Linked DNA regions of Homo sapiens. The protein of the gene in region 1 interacts with the protein of each later gene in a biochemical or structural test. Each region holds a gene or a part of one and is shown on either strand. Other genes may lie near its edges.

The links.
Region 2: the proteins of RAB6B (region 1) and ERC1 form a complex in vitro, tested with the Homo sapiens proteins (one study listed by BioGRID).

What each region holds. Positions count from the first base shown.
Region 1 is NC_000003.12:133,829,778-133,840,182, reverse strand, and holds part of RAB6B (ras-related protein Rab-6B), read left to right. Parts: intron 1-565; coding exon 566-677; intron 678-1,923; coding exon 1,924-2,017; intron 2,018-5,541; coding exon 5,542-5,608; intron 5,609-10,405. UniProt on the Homo sapiens protein: The small GTPases Rab are key regulators of intracellular membrane trafficking, from the formation of transport vesicles to their fusion with membranes. Rabs cycle between active GTP-bound and inactive GDP-bound states.
Region 2 is NC_000012.12:992,813-1,003,217, forward strand, and holds part of ERC1 (ELKS/Rab6-interacting/CAST family member 1), read left to right. Parts: intron 1-10,405. UniProt on the Homo sapiens protein: Regulatory subunit of the IKK complex. Probably recruits IkappaBalpha/NFKBIA to the complex. May be involved in the organization of the cytomatrix at the nerve terminals active zone (CAZ) which regulates neurotransmitter release.

The DNA.
Region 1 (10,405 bases):
CTCCTCTCATCTGCAGAGCCTGAGGGTTCTCTTCAGAAACCCCTCTGGCCTTCCCCAAACTCTCCTGAGCTCCCATGGTGGGGACACCACTCAGTAGGGCCCTTCCTTCCCTAGAGGCTGCTGTGTCCTCCTCTGCCCACCCTCACTGTTCCCAAACTTGCCAAGTCGCGCGCGCATGTGTGTGTGTGTGTGTGTATGCACACACACGTGTGACCCAGTTCTCACTCTCCACTCTGAATCCCCAGAGTCAGGTCTCTCAGGTGGGCCCCTAAAGCCACTATTCCATGTGGCAAATCATGACACTGTGATCTTCCAGATGGGGTGATTCCTCTCCCACAAAGGGTGGCTGAACAGTGCAAGTGGCTCCCCAGGGCCGCAGGGCAGGGCCCGGTTCCCTCTGAAAGGCCCTACCCAGCTGATCTGTGTTGACTGAGCTCACACCCCTCCCTGGGTATCTGAGGGCACATGCTCACCCTCCCTCCTGCTCCTGGCTCACACCTCCCCTTCCCATCTCCCACTGGTGGCTGGCCCTGGCTTTCAGTTTATCCTCACTTTCTGCCTCCAGATCTCAACTCCTTCCAACAGACCTCTAAGTGGATCGACGACGTCAGGACAGAGAGGGGCAGTGATGTTATCATCATGCTGGTGGGCAACAAGACGGACCTGGCTGATAAGAGGTAGGTGCAAGGGCACACAGGTGCAGGGTGCCACCCTCCACTCCTCTGTAACTGCTCCTGGACAGGGAGCTCTGGGATGCATGGGTGGTGTGTCTGTGCTTCTGACCATGCATCCGGAAAAGGTCCCTTGAGACACTAGGAGCTTTGAGGACACCTGGTAGACTCTCATCCATGGGTATCTCATCTGTGAAGCCCTGTCTTCCACCACCAGGCAGGGGCGGGGCACTTCTCCGTTTGCTGTCTACACAGAGCACTGTGCACCTGGCTTGACCCAGCAGTGCATGGTCTAAGGCCCTGCCATGGCCACAGCCCTGCCCCAGACACAGCAGTCCTCTAGGCCCCAGCGTGTGCACTGTGAACTGTCTGTGCCTGTGAAGTGTCTGCACCAATGTGCGTGGGGCTGTGAATGCCCTGGGCCCTAGGTGTGAGCATGCAGAGCATTCAGACCACAAACCTATGGCCGTAGCCTGCTTAGCCTGGTTTGTGGCTGCGTCTGGCATGAAGCTTTCTCTGAAGAGGCTCCTCCATGCTGCCCTCCATGCACAGGGAGAACTGAGGTGCCATGTGTGTACATTGTCCACTCATTTTACATGACCCTGACTTGGGCAGATAAAGTGACAGGCCATGGACTCCAGCAAGCAGTGTGGGCTTCCTGCAGCGTCCCTTGACCACCTGAGGAATCATCTGAATTAGAGCCTGCTTTACTAGAGTTCTGTCCTTAAAGTAAGGAAAACTGGGCTCAAATCCCAGTACAAAGGGTACCCAGGCCCTTCATACCCTCACCCACTTCTGCCTGCCCCATCATGGAGCCCTCTCTGCTAAGTAGCTTTGTGGCCCTGGGGGAGACACTTTTAGCATTAGTGTTCTCACAGGGAAAATGCGACTGATAATACCACCCAGAGTGGCACTGCCTGGCTTGAATCTCTTCATAAGCACAGGCTCTGCAGTAGTGACTACTGGGAAAGGCAGGTATGGGGCAGCCCTACCCCAGGGCCTGCTTTGAAGCTGAGAAGACACAAAGGAAGGAGTGGGGGAAGCGGATAGTGTCCTACTGTTCCCTGGTGCCTGCTTTGTGCTAGCGAGACTGTGGTTGGTGCCCGGGAGGGACCCTTGGGATCAGAGCCTGTCTTCAGGACTGACCAAGGGCCCAGTGGGCTCCCTCTGCCCTGCTGGGTGGGTCCCTCCTCATATCTGCCAGGGTCTGCTTCTCTGCTGAGCTGATTTCCCCCCTTCCCCTCATCTCTAGGCAGATAACCATCGAGGAGGGGGAGCAGCGCGCCAAAGAACTGAGCGTCATGTTCATTGAGACCAGTGCGAAGACTGGCTACAACGTGAAGCAGGTGAGGACACACCTGGCACGGGGCCCGGCACGGGGCCCGGCACGGTGTAGCCCTGTGGTCAGCTGCAGGCTCAGAGCTGCCTTGCCCTGAAGGGCTGGTGATGGGATTGGGGCAGCCAACCAGAACACCCATAGATGCGCCCAGGGAGGGGAGAGCTAATTTCCGGAGCTGGTAAAGCCCAAAAGAGGGAGGGACCACTCCGGGCATGGCATCTGGAGAACATAAGTCACCAGCCACCGTAGTAGTTGCCAGTCACGGCCCACGTAGCAGGCCCTAAGAGTGTCCAGCCACCAGCTTCCAGGAGGCTGAGGGAAGCAGTGGTTCCCTAGCCCCTCACCCCACTTTGGATGACAGGTGCAGGAAAATTCAATCTGATCAGCATTTGGGGTTCATGCCTTGCGCTTAGCAAGTGCTCAGGGCTGTGGAGGGCAACTCAGGCCTGGGGGAAAGAGCCTACCATGATGTGGTTGGAACTCACAGGAGGGCGAGGCAGTGGAGTTAGGGCTGAGCCTTGCAGCATGAGGGCCCCTGAGTAGTCCATGGGTGGAATTTAGCAGGTCAGCAGACAGGGCTGGAAAACATTGCACCTTTATCTTCACTAACCACTGACCCGTCCGTAGCACTGAAGGACGTCTGATTTGTCCTTCAATGATGAATGTAGGCAATGACACTCAGTCACATTAGCAGTGCCTATGGCTTTACCACCAATAGAAATCACAGATGCCTTCCCATCACCTCATAGTGTTGCAGGTATCTTGAACTTCACATCTATCAGTGTTTCAGCATCACACTACTTATTAGATCTCTTGCTAGTTCTCGCTGTTCAATGTGTTTCATAAGGAAGCACAAATGTCGATGAAGTTTTATTTCAGTACTCAGTAGTCCCCTTTATCATCCTATGTAATTGATTTCACATACTTCAAAGGAGTCCATAGGATTAACCAGATTGCCAGAGGGGTCCTTGGCTCACGGAAGGGTTAAGAACTCCTGCCGTTGGGGATGAGAAGGACTTGGAGAGGTGGTGAGGAGGGAGGGCATGCCAAGCAGGGGAGCAGCAAAGGTGTGGCTGCAGGGTGCCCGAGGTATGGGGAGGGGACTCTGGGTGAGGAGTGTGGTTGGCCTGGCGGTCGCTTCTGCCCTGCCACCCCAGCATTGCTGGGAACCCTTGGCAAGCTGTGTATACAGCACTGGCCTTCTGGATGCAGTGATGGTTTGCCCTGTGTGGACAGTGCTGGTGGCAGTGGGGAAGGTGGGCTGGCAGAACGACAAGAAGAGACAAGAAGGGTGGAAGGGACACTATGTGACACTGGGGGCCCCAAAGCTCCAGGACTCAGTGCCCCACCCTAACTAGAGTGTCCTCATCAGGGCTTCACTCACTCCCATCTGTTCCCAGCCTCCCTTGGTGTGGGGCTGAAGCTGTCATGGTCCTTCCTGCTCCCTGGGGGCATGCAGGAGAGACTGGGCTGCTACTCTTTGGGAGCCCTAAAGTCATGGGAAGCAGGGAAGCAGAGGGAGGGCAGGGCAGCACCAGGAGGTCCATAGGGCAGGTAGCATCTGCCTCAGCCGTCAGGGTCAGGGAGGCACTGATGCCCCTACCCCCAGAGTGCTCTGGAACCCATGCAGTGGTTTAGCAGGAGTTAAATGTGGTCAGTTTCGAACCCTGTGTGGCTCAGAGGAGTGTCCATGCAGTGCAGACTCCTGGATCTAAATGTGAGCATATCCACTCACAGAAACCCATACCTGACCCTAGAAACCCATACCTGATCCTAGAGCACCCTTCAAAATCCCTAGTGGCATTTTGGCCACTAGTAGAGGCTGTGACTGTTTTGAGAGCCAGACAGGCAGATCAGAGCCGCCCAGGGCCAATGCCATGAAGGAAAGCTCAGGAAGGATGGCCTGGGCCCTTTTACCCTTGCCTACTAATGGCTACCCCACTGCAGAGCCTCCTCTGCAGCCCGCCCACAAGGGTCTCACACCATGCTGGGCCCACCAGCAGCTTCCCCCCTTGGGCCCTCATGGCCTTTAGCCCTGTCACCCAGCCCGGGTGCTCAGCTGGGGCTGGGCTCTGGGGTGAGGCCATGAATAAGACTCACCCTGTCTTCAGAGAGCTCATGCAGTGGAGGGTATGAGCCCAGAGCCCACCCAGTTCCTGCAATTCACATTTGTGAGGACAGCGGGAGTGCTCCTGGGTTAGTCCTTTCAGGCTACCGTAACAAATCACTATAGGCAGGGTAGCATATAAACAGCAGAAATGTATTGCTTACAGCTCTGGAGGCTGGGAACTCCATGGTCAAGGTGCAGGCATATTCAGTGTCTGGTGAGGGCCCATTTCCTCCTAGATGGCACCTTCCTGCTGCATCCTCACAAGGTGGAAGGGGCAGACAGGCTCCCTCGGGCCTCATTCATAAGGGCACTCATCCCGTTCATGAGGACTCTACCCTCCTGACTAAGCACCTCCTAAAGCCCCACCTCTTTATACTGTCACATTGGAGATTCTGTTTCAACATAGGAATTTGCAGGGGGACCGGCATTCAGAACCTAGCAGTTCAGAGTCTTCTGTGCCTCATACTTCTGCCTCGTACCTGTCACCTCCAAGATTCCATCTCTGCCAGCACCCCATCTGCCACTTGCCACCTGTCCCCTGCCACCCACACCTGCCCAAACACACACACACACACACACACACACACACAGAAAACCCACATGTACGCAGACACACACCTTACCAAGGACACACACTATGCACACATTCCCCCCACACTTACACAAACACACACATAAAGATGCCACACGTTCACACACACCACACTCAAACATTCCCCCATATGCTTACACAAACATACATGCACCTACCCACACGCACCACTCACAACACACACATTTTCCACGCAGTCCTACAGATAAAACACATACACTGTACACACACTCCTACACACAATAAACAACTCACACTCCTACACATCCAAACAAGCCCACAAAATTGTGTTCACACTCCTGCATCCCTCGCGCTCTCAGAGAAGCCTCACCACTGTGCCCATGCAGCCCTGGCCCTGCTGTTCGCTGCCTTGGCGCCGGACCTGCAGGGCTCCCCAAGCAGAGTCATTCATCTCAAGGGCAAGTCACTTCCCCATGCCTGGTCCCCATGAGGGCTGTTTGCAGAAGCCCACCTTAAGGCCTGTCACCCAGAGGCCCAAACCATTTTCTGCACCAGAGGAAGTCCCTTGCAGTCACTGCCATGACCTAAGCTCATCCCAGTGACCCTATGGCCAGTCTGCTTGGGTGAGAGGCCACAGCTTTGTTCCTTCCTTCCACAAGCTACTGAGGCCTGCCCAGACCCAATGCTGTGAGAGGTGGGGGAGAGAGAACATAGGCACAGCCCCTGCCTTTGAGGGCACCGTCCGCTGGGCAGATGGGAGAGTAAAGCTGCAGGTTGGGAGGGGAAGAGGGGTGAGGGTGCAGGTGCAGTGAGGAGCAGAGGGGAGGGCCAGGGTTGGGGTTCACACTGCATTTCTTCATCTTTCCAGCTTTTTCGACGTGTGGCGTCGGCTCTACCCGGAATGGAGAATGTCCAGGAGAAAAGCAAAGAAGGGAGTATCCTTTTCCTTTGACAAGTGAGTGAAAAGATGTATAGAAGCCATTTATTCACTGAATATGTTAGTGCAGTGGACAGACACTCGCCCAGTCCCCGCCCAGCCTTCCCTGGTCTGCCGCGAATGGCACGGGGCCTCCTCTAGGCGGGATGCAGCTGAACCCTATGGTTTGGAGCCCCCGTCTGGCTCTAACCATCTACTTCTTCTTCCAGAATAGCAGGAAGATACCAAAGGGGTGTGCACAGAGTGATGCTGTGGGGTGGGGAGTGAGAAACAGCGACTTTGCCCTTCTTTACAGCGAGCATGTTTATGGGTTTCATGAACACAGGCAGAGTCTCCACTGCAGGGAAGTCTCTGTCACTGGGGATATGATCTCAACGTGGTTCAGTCTACTCAAGACAGCTCCCCCCTTCAGACAGATGCCCCCTCCTTGTCCCGCCCACCTTCTCTACCCAGCCCTGAACAGCTCCTGAGGCTCCCCACTGATCTGTGGGACCATTGCGCATCACCCACAAACCAGCCCCAACCTGAAGAGACACCTAGATGCTGAAACTGAGGTTCAGAGAGGTAGTCTGGTTTGCCCAGTGTCACACAGCATGTAAGTTACAGTTAGGATTCACACTCAGGCTTGCTTCCTCCATATCCAGCCCTATTCCATGTGGGACACTGTCCCTCTAAGGGCATTTGAGAGAATCAGATGAAAACTGTTTCAGCAGGGGAAGCCATTGCCCACACCTGGGCCTCCCCTGCATCTAGTCAGATGTCCCTGCCTGAGTAAGCCACCAGAAAACAAGCATGCAGATCCCTGGCTGGCATCCTTTACAGTGGACCTGTCCCTACACAGCAGCTCTCCAACATCCCCCACTGATCCTATAGGCCTCTGAGGGTAGACATCCCTGACAGATCAAAGAAGGGCCCTGGGAAGATGGAAGGGCACCTTTGGGCTGATGAGAATCAAAAGCAAAAGAAGCACACAGCTTAATGTTGGAGGCCTCATGGAGCTGCTGGGGCAGGGCGGGCAGGACACCAGGAGTCCCAGGGCTGCAGCAAGGGGGAGCCTGACACAGGCCTGGAGGGAAGCTAGGCCTCTCCAGCCTTGCTCAAGGAGCTCTCAGAGCAGACTCGAGACCCACCCCCCGGGGGGGTCAGGAAGGCTCACCAAGGAGCAGGTGCCCCAGCAGTCCCACGGTCTGTGTGTCACCAGAGGACAAGCAGTGGCCGAGAGGAGGGGGTTTGAGGAGTATCTCCTGGTTGGTCAGTTATGAGACTCCAATCACAGATAAGGAAACTGAGGCTCAGAAACTTAAACTAGGGCACCCCACGGCTCTCAGTAGCAGAGACAGGCTCCAGAGCTCAGGAGAGAGCCCCTGTGGAATCACCTGTCACATGGGACTCCTTTGAGGTTCCAGGAACATACAGAAGCCAACCTGAAGGGCAAACATAGGAGCAGGAACAAGGGAGAGGGGCAGACAAGGTGCAGGCGATCTCCGCTGTGCCTGCCAGCAAGGGGAAGGGTTGCACTGCCCGCTCTCCATCCCACCAGCTCCCAAGGTGTGGCACACTGGCCGGGGTGAGTGGTGATCGTTTCATTCACATTCTCCCAGAGTCGCGCTGTTGAGGGCTCCAGGCTGGGCCCACAGTCAGGTCAGACTGGGCTGAGTGCAGGGTGACAGTGAGCTCGTCATCGTCCTGGTATGCCTAGCGTTTCATCCAGCTACCACTGACCTTTGGGCCCCTTGGGAGAAAGGATACATGGCAGGTTGCAAACAGACTGCACAGGGTGTTGTGACCTGTGTCCCTTTTTCTAGCTAAGGGGTCCCCTCATCTGGGTAGATGTACCCCCATCCTTTCACTTCTGCCCAGGAGCCAGCTTGCTGGGCCTCTCACGAGGCAGGTGCTAGAGCGGCCACCAGAGGTCCCAGAGGGACCAGGCAGAGGCAGCCGTCATTCTGCTTCTTTCGGGATGGGGTGTTGGCATTTCTGCTTACTCACAGTCCAAATCCAGGTGTTTTGAAGGTGTGTGCTTTGGGGTCATGTTCATAATTGTGTTCCACATTGAGAGCAGCCACACAGAAGCACTGCTTTGTGGCGCTGTATAAACTGTTCACACCTGGCCTCACTTGCTCAGCTCAGGACTTGGTGAATGTGTGGCATGAGGTTTCCGTCTGCTGCTTGCAGGTCTAGATGGGGGGCTGCTGCACCTCTTCTTCACGTTCGAGACAGGAGGACCCCTCAGGGCCGCTCTGGCCAATACTTCTGCCCAGCAGCACCCTCCACTGGTCTGCTCTCAACAAAGTAGGAGCCAAGGGGCCACCAAATGGTAGAGCCATAAGCCCCTTACTGGTTCTACATACACAACCCCCCAACCCCCACTTTCTACCCAAATACAGTATGCGCCCATCACATGGGCCCCAGACTGTTTCTGAACAAGGCTGGCTTACGCAAAGAAAGAGCAGTAGTGTGGGCACTTCATGAAGTGGCTCTAAGCAGGTGAGGACAGTGACGCCGCAAACCAGATAGAGCATGCTCAAGGCCTCCCAGCTCCTTAATTCAGAGCTGGAACCACATCCAAATGACTGGATTCCACAGCCCTGTTGCACTCTCTGATGGGGCTGTGGTGTGCTTTGACATTCCAGATACAGACAGGATTGTGCTGCAGTAGAGTCAGAGGCACTGGGATTGGGGAAGCATATCCAGCAGTAGGGGGTAAGTTTGTAACAGGCTGTCTGGGCCCACCCATCACTTCCAGGAACCAGGGAGAAGGGACATTGGGCACTGAATGTGGCCCGTGATGGGCCACACTTGACCCAGAGGGAAGAGGCGGGTGTGCTCTGGCCATGCCTGCCGGAAAGGCACATATCTAACCTCTTGAGGCTTGTGAGAAACCGTGAGTTTCCCCTTCTGGGACATTATTTAGACATGGGTCCAGTCATTCTTCCCTGTCCTCTCAATCAGCGGGCAGCCCCTGAGCACTGCATTTCAGCAGCATGTGGCGTAACAAGGAAGGAGGTGTCATTAAATGAGAGCCTTTGGGAAGGCTCCTAGCGGAAGAGCTGGGCCTGTGCTCTCCAATTCTGCAGCCACATGTGGGTGTTCCGACTTAAATTAGTTAAAATTCAGTTGAATTAAAAGTTCATTTCCTCACTTGCACTAGCATCCTTGCAAGTGCCCAGTTGCCCATGTTGCTAATGGTGACATCTTGGACAGTGCAGATATAGAATATTTCCATCACTGGAGAAAGTTCTTTGGACAGTGCTGTTCTAGAAGTATCAGTAGAATTGGTTTCCCGGATGTCTGTGCATTGGGACTCTCCAAAGAACTTGTTAAAAACACACATCTGGGGCCCATCCCCACATCTACCAAGGTAGGACCCAGTGAGACGTATTTTTAACAAACATCCCAGAAAATTTTGATGCAATCCATTTGAGAACTATTGCTGTGCAGTGTACAAAAGTATTGTGATCAAATTGCGCATGAGATTGTTTTAGTGGTCGTAGGTGACTTCAATACTGGGCAGAACGTAATGCTGTAACAGTGGCCAACCTTCAAGCTAGACCACTAGTTCTCAACCAGGACTGATAGCCCTTCCCTCCCCTCCCCACAGGGGACATTTGGCAATGTCTTCAGACGTTTTGGCTCACCATAAATTGGGGGAGGGGGAATGGGGTTTAACTGGCATCTCATAGATAGTGGTCAGGGATGCTTCTGAACATCCTCCGTGCACAGGACGCCCTCATAACAAGGAATTGTCTGGCCCAAAATGTCAGTAGTGTTGAGTTTGAGAAGCCCATCCACAAGGGGCTTAGCACAGCCAGGTCAGTGAAAGTAGAAGGCTGGGGTCAAGATAGCCTTGGGTTTGTACCTGGGCACCTCAGCTTCCCAGCTGGAAGGTGGCTCTTTTACTCCCCACTGCACGAGGTCTAATGTGGAAGTGAGGTAGCTCTCAGCAGGAGAGGCCACTAATGCGTGCACCCTGGCCCAAGGAATGAGGACATTTTTACAGGTGGAGATGGGGAGGAAGGCTGGGTGTGGGGGAGGGAGCATCACTTCTAGAAGGAAAGAACAGCATGAACAAAGGAAAGAAGGAAAGCATAGGACGTGTTTAAAGCAGGGAAAATCTGGTTGGTGGAGCCTTGGTGTGTGATTGAGGGAAGGGGATAAGCTAGCGTCAACAGGTGCTTGGGGTGACCCTAAATGGGGAGGCCTTAAATGCCAGAGTGAGAAATCCGTGGACACTTTGTTTCTGTAGCAGAGTGTGACATGATTGTCACCAGAGCTGGCTTTGGGAAGCCACCATGCTGAGAGAGAGCTGGCTGGGCTCAGAGGGGCACTCAGAGAAGACCAGGAGACCTCAAGGAGGCCTGTGCCCAGGCCAGCAATACAGAACAGGACTGCACTGCCGGCATGGGCCATAGAACTGCAGCTGGCAGAGAGAAACAGCAGGGCATTCCTGGCAGTGGGTTTACCAAAAATGATGGGCAGTAGAGAAGCAGGCTGCTTGACTAGGGTAGAGAGAACAAAAGGTGGGCTGCAGTGGGCAGTGGGAAGGAAGGCACTGGCTTAGTATCTATTTACTCATTTATAGGCTGCCATGGTATAAGATACATATACATACACACAAGATAAAGTTGTATGTGTATGTGTGTACACACACACATGGGGAAAATAAAGGTAGGAAAAGCAAAGAAAAGTCAGAGATAAAGTCATACTCAAAATGTATGCCATGGCCGCATGGTTGTTAGAGGTGGCCAAAAAGTTGGCTCTGAGCATCCTCACAGCCAAGGCAAGGAAAGAGAAT
Region 2 (10,405 bases), on another chromosome or scaffold:
CATGTATTATGTAATGGATGGAAGTAGACATGGCTCTCAATAATTCATTTATGGAGGAAGAGAAGCTGTCAGAAAGTGGGATTTAAGCAGTGACTTTCCCAAGGCTTGCCTAGTTTATTTGGGAAAATAGCCAGAGAAGTGCTTTCTTGTAACCCAAAAGAGAAATATACAGATAAGAATTTCAGTAGTTGCAGATCGTTGCTTTTTCTAAGTGCCTACTTAATGAGCAGATTATTGTCTTCCAGCAAATACTTCTACTTTATAGAGAGGTATGGGAAACAGGACATAATAGGTATTAAGTGAGAAAGTGTGTGTTCCAATTTTTAATTATAAATAAAAGATTTAATTAACTGTATTCAGTTAATTCATTTGGTAAAGTGAACAGTTTTGACTTTGGATTAGTTAGAAGGAAAACAAAATTGACATATCTAGTTTTCGCTTTTAAATTATACATAGACTTAATTAATTGGGACAAATGTGAACTAAGATACTGGGTAAAACTTGTGTGTACTCCTAAAATGACATTTGCATGGCTGGTAGTAAGCTGTGATTCTTGTCCTTGTAGGAATGAAATCACATAATTTGGGGAAAGTCTTAAGGTAAAAGTAAGCTATTTCGTTTAGCATTTCTTGTGCCTGAAATTATGCCTACATTTTATTTTTCAAAAAATGTTGCTTGCTAGTCATTACTTGTGATATCCTTGTTGAGTCTACTGAGGTGTTTTTTTTCCTTCATTACCTGTGTCATAGATAAGTATGCCAGTCTGTTAATTCAACATTAATACTGCAAACTTAAAAGTGAAGGTTCTTGGCCGGGCGCCGTGGCTCATGCCTGTAATCCCAGCACTTTGGGAGGCCGAGGCAGGCGGATCATGAGGTCAGGAGTTCGAGACTAGCCTGGCCAACATGGTGAAACCCTGTCTCTACTAAAAATATAAGAATTAGCTGGGCGTGGTGGCACATGCCTGTAATCCCAGCTACTCAGGAGGCTGAGGCAGAAGAATTGCTTGAGCCTGGGAGGCAGAGGCTGCAGTGAGCCGAGATCATGCCACTGCACTCCAGTCTGGGCTACAGAGCGAGATTCCATCTCAAAAAATAAAAATAAAAATTGGCTGGGTGTGGTGGTGCACACCTGTAACCCCAGCTACTCAGGAAGCTGAGGCAGGAGAATTGCTTGAACCTGGGAGGTGGAGCTTGCAGTGAGCCGAGATTGCACCACTGCACTCCAGCCTGAGTCACGGCAAAACTCCGTCTCAAAAAAAAAAAAAAAAAAAAAAAAAAAAAGTGAAGGTTTTCATAGCAACAGCTGCTCGGTTTTACACTATGTTTACATTTAGAAGTATGAGAGTTGTTAAATGTGTATTTTACACATATTTCATCAGAAACATTAATGGAAAAAGATCAAGAAATGAAGTATTTTGGTTTAAGAATCAGTAGTACATTGATTATCAGTTTTCAGAGACATATAGTAAAATAAACTTAGCATACAGATTATGTGGAATATAATTTGTTTTTTTTTCTTATTTATTTTTTGTGTGTGGAATGTAATTGAAATCTGTTGCTCACCAAGTCTTTCAGTGTACTAGAGTTTGGGTTCTGGGGTCAGAGTGCCTGAGTTCAAATCCTGGCTTTGCCATGGTATGATGTAGGGCAAACTGCTTAATGTTGTTTATTTCCTAACCTTAACCTGTACCTTAATTTCTTCATCTGCAAAATAGAAATAATAACAGTAGTACCTAACCTCTTAAGCTGGTCAAATGAATTAATTCATGTATTTAGAACAGTTTGGGCACATAATTAGCTGGTTCACTAACATCATTTGAAGTTTAACTGTGTATACTATTTTTACTTAATAAGTATATATTAAATACATATTATGTACCACATATTCTAGATGCTGGTATCATAGTAGTGAACAGTTCTCCCAGCACTTTGGGAGGCCGAGGTGGGAGGATGGCTGGGCAACATAGCGAGACCATGTCTCTACAAAAATAAAAAAATTAGGCCGGGTGCGGTGGCTCACGCCTGTAATCCCAGCACTTTGGGAGGCCAAGGCGGGCGGATCATGAGGTCAGGGGTTCGAGACCAGCCTGGCCAGCATGGTGAAACCCCGTCTCTACTGAAAATACAAACAATTAGCTGGGGGTGGTGGCGCGTGCCTGGAATCCTGGCTACTCGCAAGGCTAAGGCAGGAAAATCTCTTGAACCCAGGAGGCGGAGGTTGCAGTGAGTGGAGATCGTGCTATTGCACTCCAGCCTGGGTGACAGAGCAAGACTCTGTCTCAAAAAAAAAAAAAAAAATTAGCATGGCAGTATGTGCCTATAGTCTCAGCTACTCAGGAGACTGAGGCAGGAGGATCACTTGAACCTAGGGGTTCGAGGTTGCAGTGAGCTGTCATTCCGTCGTTGCACTCCAGCCTGGGCGACAGAGTGAGGGAAGGCTATCTCAAATAAATAATAAATAAATAAAAGTACGGGCAGTAGTCAGGAGCTTATGCTGTATTGTTCCAGGTGAGGGTATCTCTGACCAAGGTGAAATGGGGAGGAGGGGTTGGATTTTGTATGTATTTTGAGGGTAGACCTATAGAATTTGTTGGTGGTTGTTTGCGGGATGTGGGCCAAACAGAAGAATAAAGAATAAGGTTTTTGGCCTGAATAACTGGAAGAATAAAGTTGCCAGTAACTGAATTGGAGATGGTAATTCATGGAGCATGTTTGTGGAGAAACCAGAAGTTCAGGGTGATGTCCAGGAAGAGTGAGAAATGTGGCTGTTTTCAGCTTCTTTGTAGTATTTATGATTATGAGATAGGTGAGATCATCAGGGGAGTGAATTTTGGTGGAGAAGAGATCCAAACATCTGAGCCTAGGGGACTGATTCATTCACTTATTCATTCATAAGTTACTTAGTGAGTATGGTTCTTCTAGGTACCTTTTTAGGCATTGGGGATATAAACCTGACAAAAGTTTTCACCTTCATGGAACTTACCTTCTAGATACGTGAGGGGAAATCAAGAGGAACCAGTAAAGGAGAGTGATAAGAAATCATTGAGTTAGGAGGGAAACCAGGGGAGTATGATATTCTAGAAGTGAAGGAAAGGAAGCTTTCAAGAAGGAGGGAACGGTCAGCGGTGTCATTGTTTAAAGTTGTGTCAGAATGTTGAGTAAGAGAGAATTCTGCTTGATTATGATGTCTAATAACAGGGAAATGACTAAATAAGTTTTAGTGTGAGATAGATGAGACAAATGTAAGAGTCTTTTAGTTTTTTACTTCTCTGTTTTTTTTGTTTTTTTTTTTGAGATGGAGTCTCTCTTTGTTGCCCAGGCTGGAGTGCAGTGGCGCAATCTCGGCTCACTGCAATCTCCGCCTCCTGGGTTCACACCATTCTGCCTCAGCCTCCGGAGTAGCTGGGACTACAGGTGCCCGCCACCATGCCTGGCTTTTTTTTTTTTTTTTTTTTTTTTTTGTATTTTTAGTAGAGACAGTGTTTCACTGTGTTAGCCAGGATGGTCTTGATCTCCTGACCTCATGATCCGCGCGCCTTGGCCTCTCAGAGTGCTGGGATTACAGGCATAAGCGACCACACCTGGCCTCATTCTCCGGGTAGATTTTTAAGAAATATTTCAGCCAGGCACAGTGTCACATGCCTGTAGTTCCAGCTGCTCTGGAGGCTGAGGCAGGAGGATTGCTTGAGTCCAGGAGATCAAGGCTGTAGTGTGCTATGATTGCATATGTGTATAGCCACTGCACTCCAGCCTGGGCTACATAGTGAGACCCCATCTGTAAATTAAAAAAAATCATTCTTTTCAGAACAAAATAGGCAACCTGGGAGTGCTAAGGAAAGGCACATGACTTCTTATTGTTGTTGTTAATTTTATGTACACTTATTTTAAGAAATAGGTAATATATGTACTAAATTAGAAGGTATAAGAGAATACACAGTTAAAAGTCTCTCCTATCCCATCTAGTTCTTTCTGAAGGCAATCACTGTTTGCAGTTTCTTGTTTTTTCTTTTTAGCCAGTGAAATTTTGTGTAATAGGACATTACCTATTCTAAAATTGCATACATATAAGAAACATTTTATCTTCCACTCTGACACTGAACACTGGCAATATTTTATACTTTTTGAGAAGGGTCTTGGTCTGTTACTCAGTCTGAAATGCGATGGTGCGGTTATAGCTTACTGCAACCTTGAATTCCTGGGCTCAAGCGATCTTCCCACCTCAGCCTCCAGAGTAGCTGGGACTGTAGCCATGTGCCACCATGCCTGGCTAATTAAAAAAAATTTGTAGAGAGACAAGGCGTCATTATGTTGCCCAGGCACTATTTTAGAATAGCTTATTTAAAAGATAGTTTTAGAAGCCTGTCAAGGGAAATAGTGACTGCTAGGATCAAACATGGATTCACTAAGTCACATCAGACAGTAGTTGCCTAGAATTGACTTGGTTACTTGACTGATAAATAAAGGAAATGCAGTAGTTGGAATTTATGTATACGTCAGCTAGGCTTTTTCATGTCGTCTTTGTGGAAAGTACGAACATATGTGTCCTAGATTTCTTGAGGACAGGAACTATCTATTAGATACTTATTAAATACTTGATGAATGAATGGATGCTAGCATAATAATGTGAATTCACAAGTTGAATACCCAGGAAATAAAGAGGTGCTTGTTGAGGATCTTGGGTTTGAGGAACTTGGTGTTAGACTCATCCATACATTTATTGAAATGACACAGGATGGTAGCAAGACTGGTGGCATAGAGGATAATGGCAGCTGTGAACTAGTTGCCAGCATATCCTTACTGAGTATGGGGGATGTCCAGGTGGTCATTAGCTGATAGTGAAGAGGTAGAGGTTGAAGACTGTGCTGCTGAATAGCATGAGAATTAGACTAAGATTTTACGTAAGGGTTTGGGAATAGTGGTCTGGAACTGGCACTGGCAGGAAGGAAGGTACCAGCCTCATTTCCCAGTATTGGGTGTGGAGTGGAAGAGACTGAGTAGCTTTCACTTAAAAGGACTATATGAGAAGAGGTGTCCTGATTGGAAAGTCAGCTTTCAGTTAAGGCAGAGAGGTAGCAAGAACATTTCCCAAGGAAGTTGAAGACTTTTAGAGGAGTTTCTTGATAAAAGAATGAAGTTCCATGAGAGTGTATTTTTCCACCCTATTGGCTTGTTATCATCATTTAAACTTTAAAATGTCTCTTCATCTTAATAAAAAACTCCAGATTTATACTTTATTGCTCTAAGTTGCTCTCTGCTTTACACACTTAAGAGTTTTCTGCATTTGCTGTGTATCTCCATTTCTTCACCTGTGACTTCTCAACCTATTTCTGTCTTGTTTCTATCGCCATTATTTCAGTGAAACTGAAAATAGCTAGTGAAAATATGTATGAAAATAGCCAATGTCTATTTTACTATCCTGTTCTTATTTAACCTCTTAGCAGCTGTGCTAGTTTCTATTGGCTATATAACAAATTACCCCCTAACTTAAGAAACATTTATTGTTTCACAGATTTTGTAGATCAGGAATGTGGGTGCAGTTGGCACCTATGATTCAGGGTCTCTCACAAGGCTGCAGTCATCTCAAAGCGCTACTTGGGGAGGCTGTTTCCAAGCTCACTCATGCGGCAATTGGCAGGCCTGAGGTCCTTGTTGGCTGCTTGCTGGAGAGGTGAGTCCCTTGCCATTTGGGTTTCTGCGTACGACTACTTAAAATATGATATCTCAGTGCTTCTGTCTTCAAAAGAGGACAGATATTAGCCAGAATCTTTTTGTAACCTTATCTTGGAAGTGATGTGGTATCACTTTTGTTGTATTCTGTTATCAGCCAGTCACTAGGTCCAGTGCACTCAAGGCAGGATTTCACAATTGCATGAATGCTGGGAGGCAGAGATCACTCATAGCCATTTCAGGACTGTCTACCACAGCAGCATTTGACAGAGCGGATACCCCTCCTTCCTTTGTAAAGCTCTCTCTTCTCTTGAGGTCTTCAGAGCACTTTTCTGTTTTTCTTGCTGGTTCTCTGGGCTCTTTCTCTGTCACTTTTTTTTTTTTTTTTTTTTTTTTGAGGCAGAGTCTTGCTCTATCGCCCAGGCTGGGGTGCAGTGGCACAATCTTGGCTCACTGCAACCTCCGCCTCCTGGGTTCAAGTGATTCTCCTGCCTTAGCCTCTTGAGTAGCTGGGATTACAGGTGTGCACCACCACACCCAGCTAATTTTTGTATTTTTAGTAGAGATGGGGTTTCACCATGTTGGCCAGGCTGGTCTCGAACTCCTGGCCTCAGGTGATCTGTCTGCCTTGGCCTCCCAAAGTGTTGGGATTATAGGCGTGAGCCACCGTGCCTGGCCTCTCAGTCACCTTTTGAGTCTTTCTGTGCTCATTTATTAAATGTTTGAATTTCTTTGGGCTTTCTCATCGCTTTCTATTTCATTTTTCATCTGTGTGCTGAGTATTCATTTTTATGTCTTCAGTTTTTACCTCTCTCCTGAGTCTGAGGACCACTCTATCGAATTGCTACTGAATGTTTCCATTTGGATGCCCCTTAAACCGAACACATCCAGAACGGAATGTATGATTCCTACACTTCCTCTGGTGTTTCTTAATTTGTTAAATGACACCACTGGGTGCTTAAGCCGGAAATGTGTGTGGTGTTCTTGATTTCTCCCTCTCCTCCACCTTCCATTTTACTATTGCTTTTTATTTTTCTAGAGCCATGGCTGTTCAGTGATGGTGTGAATGTTTCTATGAGGTAGTGCATCCTCTGCCAGGTTGCAAGCATTGAACCTGGTGCTAGGTGATTTTTTTTTTTTTTTTTTTTTGAGATGGAGTTTCACTCTGTCGCCAGGCTGGAGTGCAATGGTGCAACCTCCGCCTCCCGGGTTCAAACGATTCCCCTGCCTCAGCCTCCCGAGTAGATGGGATTATAGGCGTGCACCACCACGGCCAGCTAATTTTGTATTTTTAGTAGAGACGGGATTTCTCCATGTTGGTCAGGCTGGTCTCAAACTCCTGACCTCAGGTGATCCGCCTGTCTTGGCCTCCCAGAGTGCTGGGATTACAGGCGTGAGCCACTGTGCCCAGCCCGCTAGGTGATTTTTAAGATTCCTTCCAATCTTGAGATACTGCGTGTGTAGCTATTGAAGATTTCTGAGTAGGAGATGCATGATCAGGGCTGTGCTTCAGAAAGGTGGCAACTCTTGAACAGTCATTTTTAGTTGTTCACCAAAGAATGAAACTAAACACCTGTATTCTTTTTAACTTTATTATGGTGTGCTAAGTGATGAATAGATAATTTTTATGTGACAGCCCTTTTGTATATATTAGTTTCATTTTTTCTCATTGTTAATGCATTTATGTTTGGAAGCCCTTTTGCATGGAAATAAGATAATCAGGCCAGGCACAGTGGCTCACGCCTGTAATCCTAGCACTTTGGCAGACTGAGGTGGGTGGATCACTTGAGGCCAGGAGTTCAAGACCAGCCTGAGCAACGTGGCGAAACCCCATCTCTACTAAAAAATAAAAAAATTAGCTGGGTGTGGTGGTGCACGCCTGTAATCACAGCCACTCTGGAGGCTGAGGCATGAGAATTCCTTGAACCCTGGAGGCGGAGGTTGCAGTGAACTGGGATTACACCACTGCACTCCAGTCTGGATGACAGAGCGAGACCCTGTCTCAGAAAAAAAAAAAAAAATAACCCAATGGGATGAAAATTTTGGGATGAAAATTTGTGTGAACTTAAATTAAGTGTCTCTGCCATCCTGGCCAACATGGTGAAACCCCGTCTCTACTAAAAATACAAAAATTAGCTGGGTGTGGTGGTGTGTGCCTGTAGTCCTAGCTATTTGGGAAGCTGAGGTGAGAGAATCGCTTGAACCTGGGACGCACAGGTTGCAGTGAGCCAAAATCACGCCATTGCACCCAGCCTGGTGACAGAGCAAGATTCTGTCTTAAAACAAAAAAAATTAAGTGTCTGAAATTGTAAAAACTTCTCAAGAAATAAAATTCAGACCTTAAACATAATTTTACTGTAGGAATATAACTTACCTTTTGAAGGAATTCTTTCTTGAAGCCATTATTTGTGTATTTATTTATTTTTAATTAACTTTTTTGTTTGTTTGTTTTTTTGAGATGGAGTTTTGCCCAGACTGGAGTGCAGTGATGCGATCTCGTCTCACGGCACCTCCCAGGTTCAAGCGATTCTCCTGCCTCAGCCTCCCAAGTAGCTGAGATTACAGGTATGGGCAACCACGCCTGGCTAATTTTTGTTTTTAGTAGAGATGGAGTTTCACCATGTTGGCTAGGCTGGTCTCAAACTCCTGACCTCAGGTGATCTGCTCACCTCGGCCTCCCAAAGTGCTGGGATTACAGGCGTGAGCCACACTGCCGGTGCTTGCCACCTTGCCTGGCTAATTTTAAAACTTATTTTTGTGGATATTGAGTTTTGGTTTTTTGTCTAGGCTGGCATCGAATTCATAGCTTCAAATGATCCTCCTGTCTTGGCCTCCCAAAATGCTGGGATTACAGGCATGAGCCACTGTGTCCGGCCTTGAAGCCCGTCTTGAATGTAACACATATGTAGAAAAGTATGTAAAACAAAAGTAAAGCTTTACAATTTATGAATCAGACACTTGTATAACCATGATGTAGGTCAAGCACTAGGACCTTACTGACATTCCACAAGCTTTCCTTGAAGCTTCCCAATCACAACCCAGTCCTTCTCTCATAAAGGTAATCTCTGTCCTGATTGTAGGAGAATCACCTTCTTTTTTTGTGTGTGTAGACCTTTTTAGTTTTGGCTTAGTTTTGATTGTTTTGCATCTTTATATGCATGGAATCATATTGTATGTATTCATGTCTGGCTTTGACTCAACATTTTGTTTGTAAGATTTAGATTTGTATGTAGCTGTTCGTTCATTTTCATTGCTAAATAGTATTCCATTGTATAAATATACTACAGTTTATTGTATTATTGATGGATATTTAGGTTGTTTCTAGTTTTGGGCTATTATGGATTATGCCACTATGACTATTCTTGTAAAGTCTTTTTTTTTTTTTTTTTTTTTTCCTGAGACGGAGTCTCGCTCTGTTGCCCAGGCTGGAGTGCAGTGGCGCAATCTCTGCTTACTGCAACCACCGTCTCCTGGGTTCAAGTGATTCTCCTGCCCCAGCCTCCCGAGTAGCTGGGATTACAGGTGCCCACCATCACACCCAGCTGTTTTTTTGTATTTTAAGTAGAGATGGGTGTTTGCCATGTTGACCAGGCTGGTCTGGAACTCCTGGCTTCAAATGATCCACCTGCCTCAGCCTCTCAAAGTGCTGGGATCACAGGTGTGAGCCACCATGCCCGGCTTTTTTTTTTTTTTTTTTTTTTTTTTTTTTTTTGAGACAGTTTCACTCTGTCGCCCAGACTGGAGTGAAGTGTTGTGATCATGGCTCACTGCAGCCTTGACCTTCTGGGCTCAAGTGATCCTCCCACCTCGGCCTCCCAAGTAACTGGGACTACAGGTGCATACCACCATGCTTGGCTAATTTTTTTTTTTTTTTTGGTACTTTTTTGTAGAGATGGAGTTTTACTATGCTGCTCAGGCTGGTCTTGAACTCCTGAGCTCAAGTAATCTGCCTGCCTTGGTCTCCCAAAGTGCTGGGACTACAGGTGTGAGCCACTGCACCTTGCCTTGTGCAAGTCTTTTAGTGCATATGTGTATGTAATTCTTTTGTGTATTTGGCCAGGAGTGAAAGTCCTGGGTCATAGGATATGCATATGTAGAATTTTAGATAATTGCCAAACAGTATTCCTTCTTTGTGGTTCTACAAATTACATGCCCCAAAGAGTGTTTGAGAGTTCATTTTGTTCCATATCTTTGCCAATACTTAGTATTGTCACTATTATTAACTTTAGCCGTTCTGGTGGATTTGTAGTAGTATCTCTTGGTTTTAATCTGCATTTCACTTATTACTAATGAGGTTGAATAATTTTATGTTGGTTACTTAGGAAACCTTTTGTGAAATGCTTATTCACATGTCTTGCCCAATTTTATCTTTTTTTTCTTATTATAGGAGTTCCTTATATATTTTGGATATGACCCCTTCTTTGGTTATTTGTGTTGCAAATATTTCCACCTTACTCTGTGGCTTGCCATTTAAGACTTCTTAAGGAGGCCAGGCACCGTGGCTCATGCCTGTAATCCCAACACTTTGGGATGCTGAGGAGGGTGGATTGCTTGAGTCCAGGAGTTCGAGACCAGCCTGGGCAACATAGTGAAACCCTATCTCTATGAAAAATGCAAAAAAAAAAAAAAAAAAGACTCAAAAAAAAAAAGAGAAAAGAAATGTGTTAGGACCCTAATTGGACTTTAATTGGATTTGTAGATTAATTTGGGTAGAATTACTTTTTTGTAATGAGGAA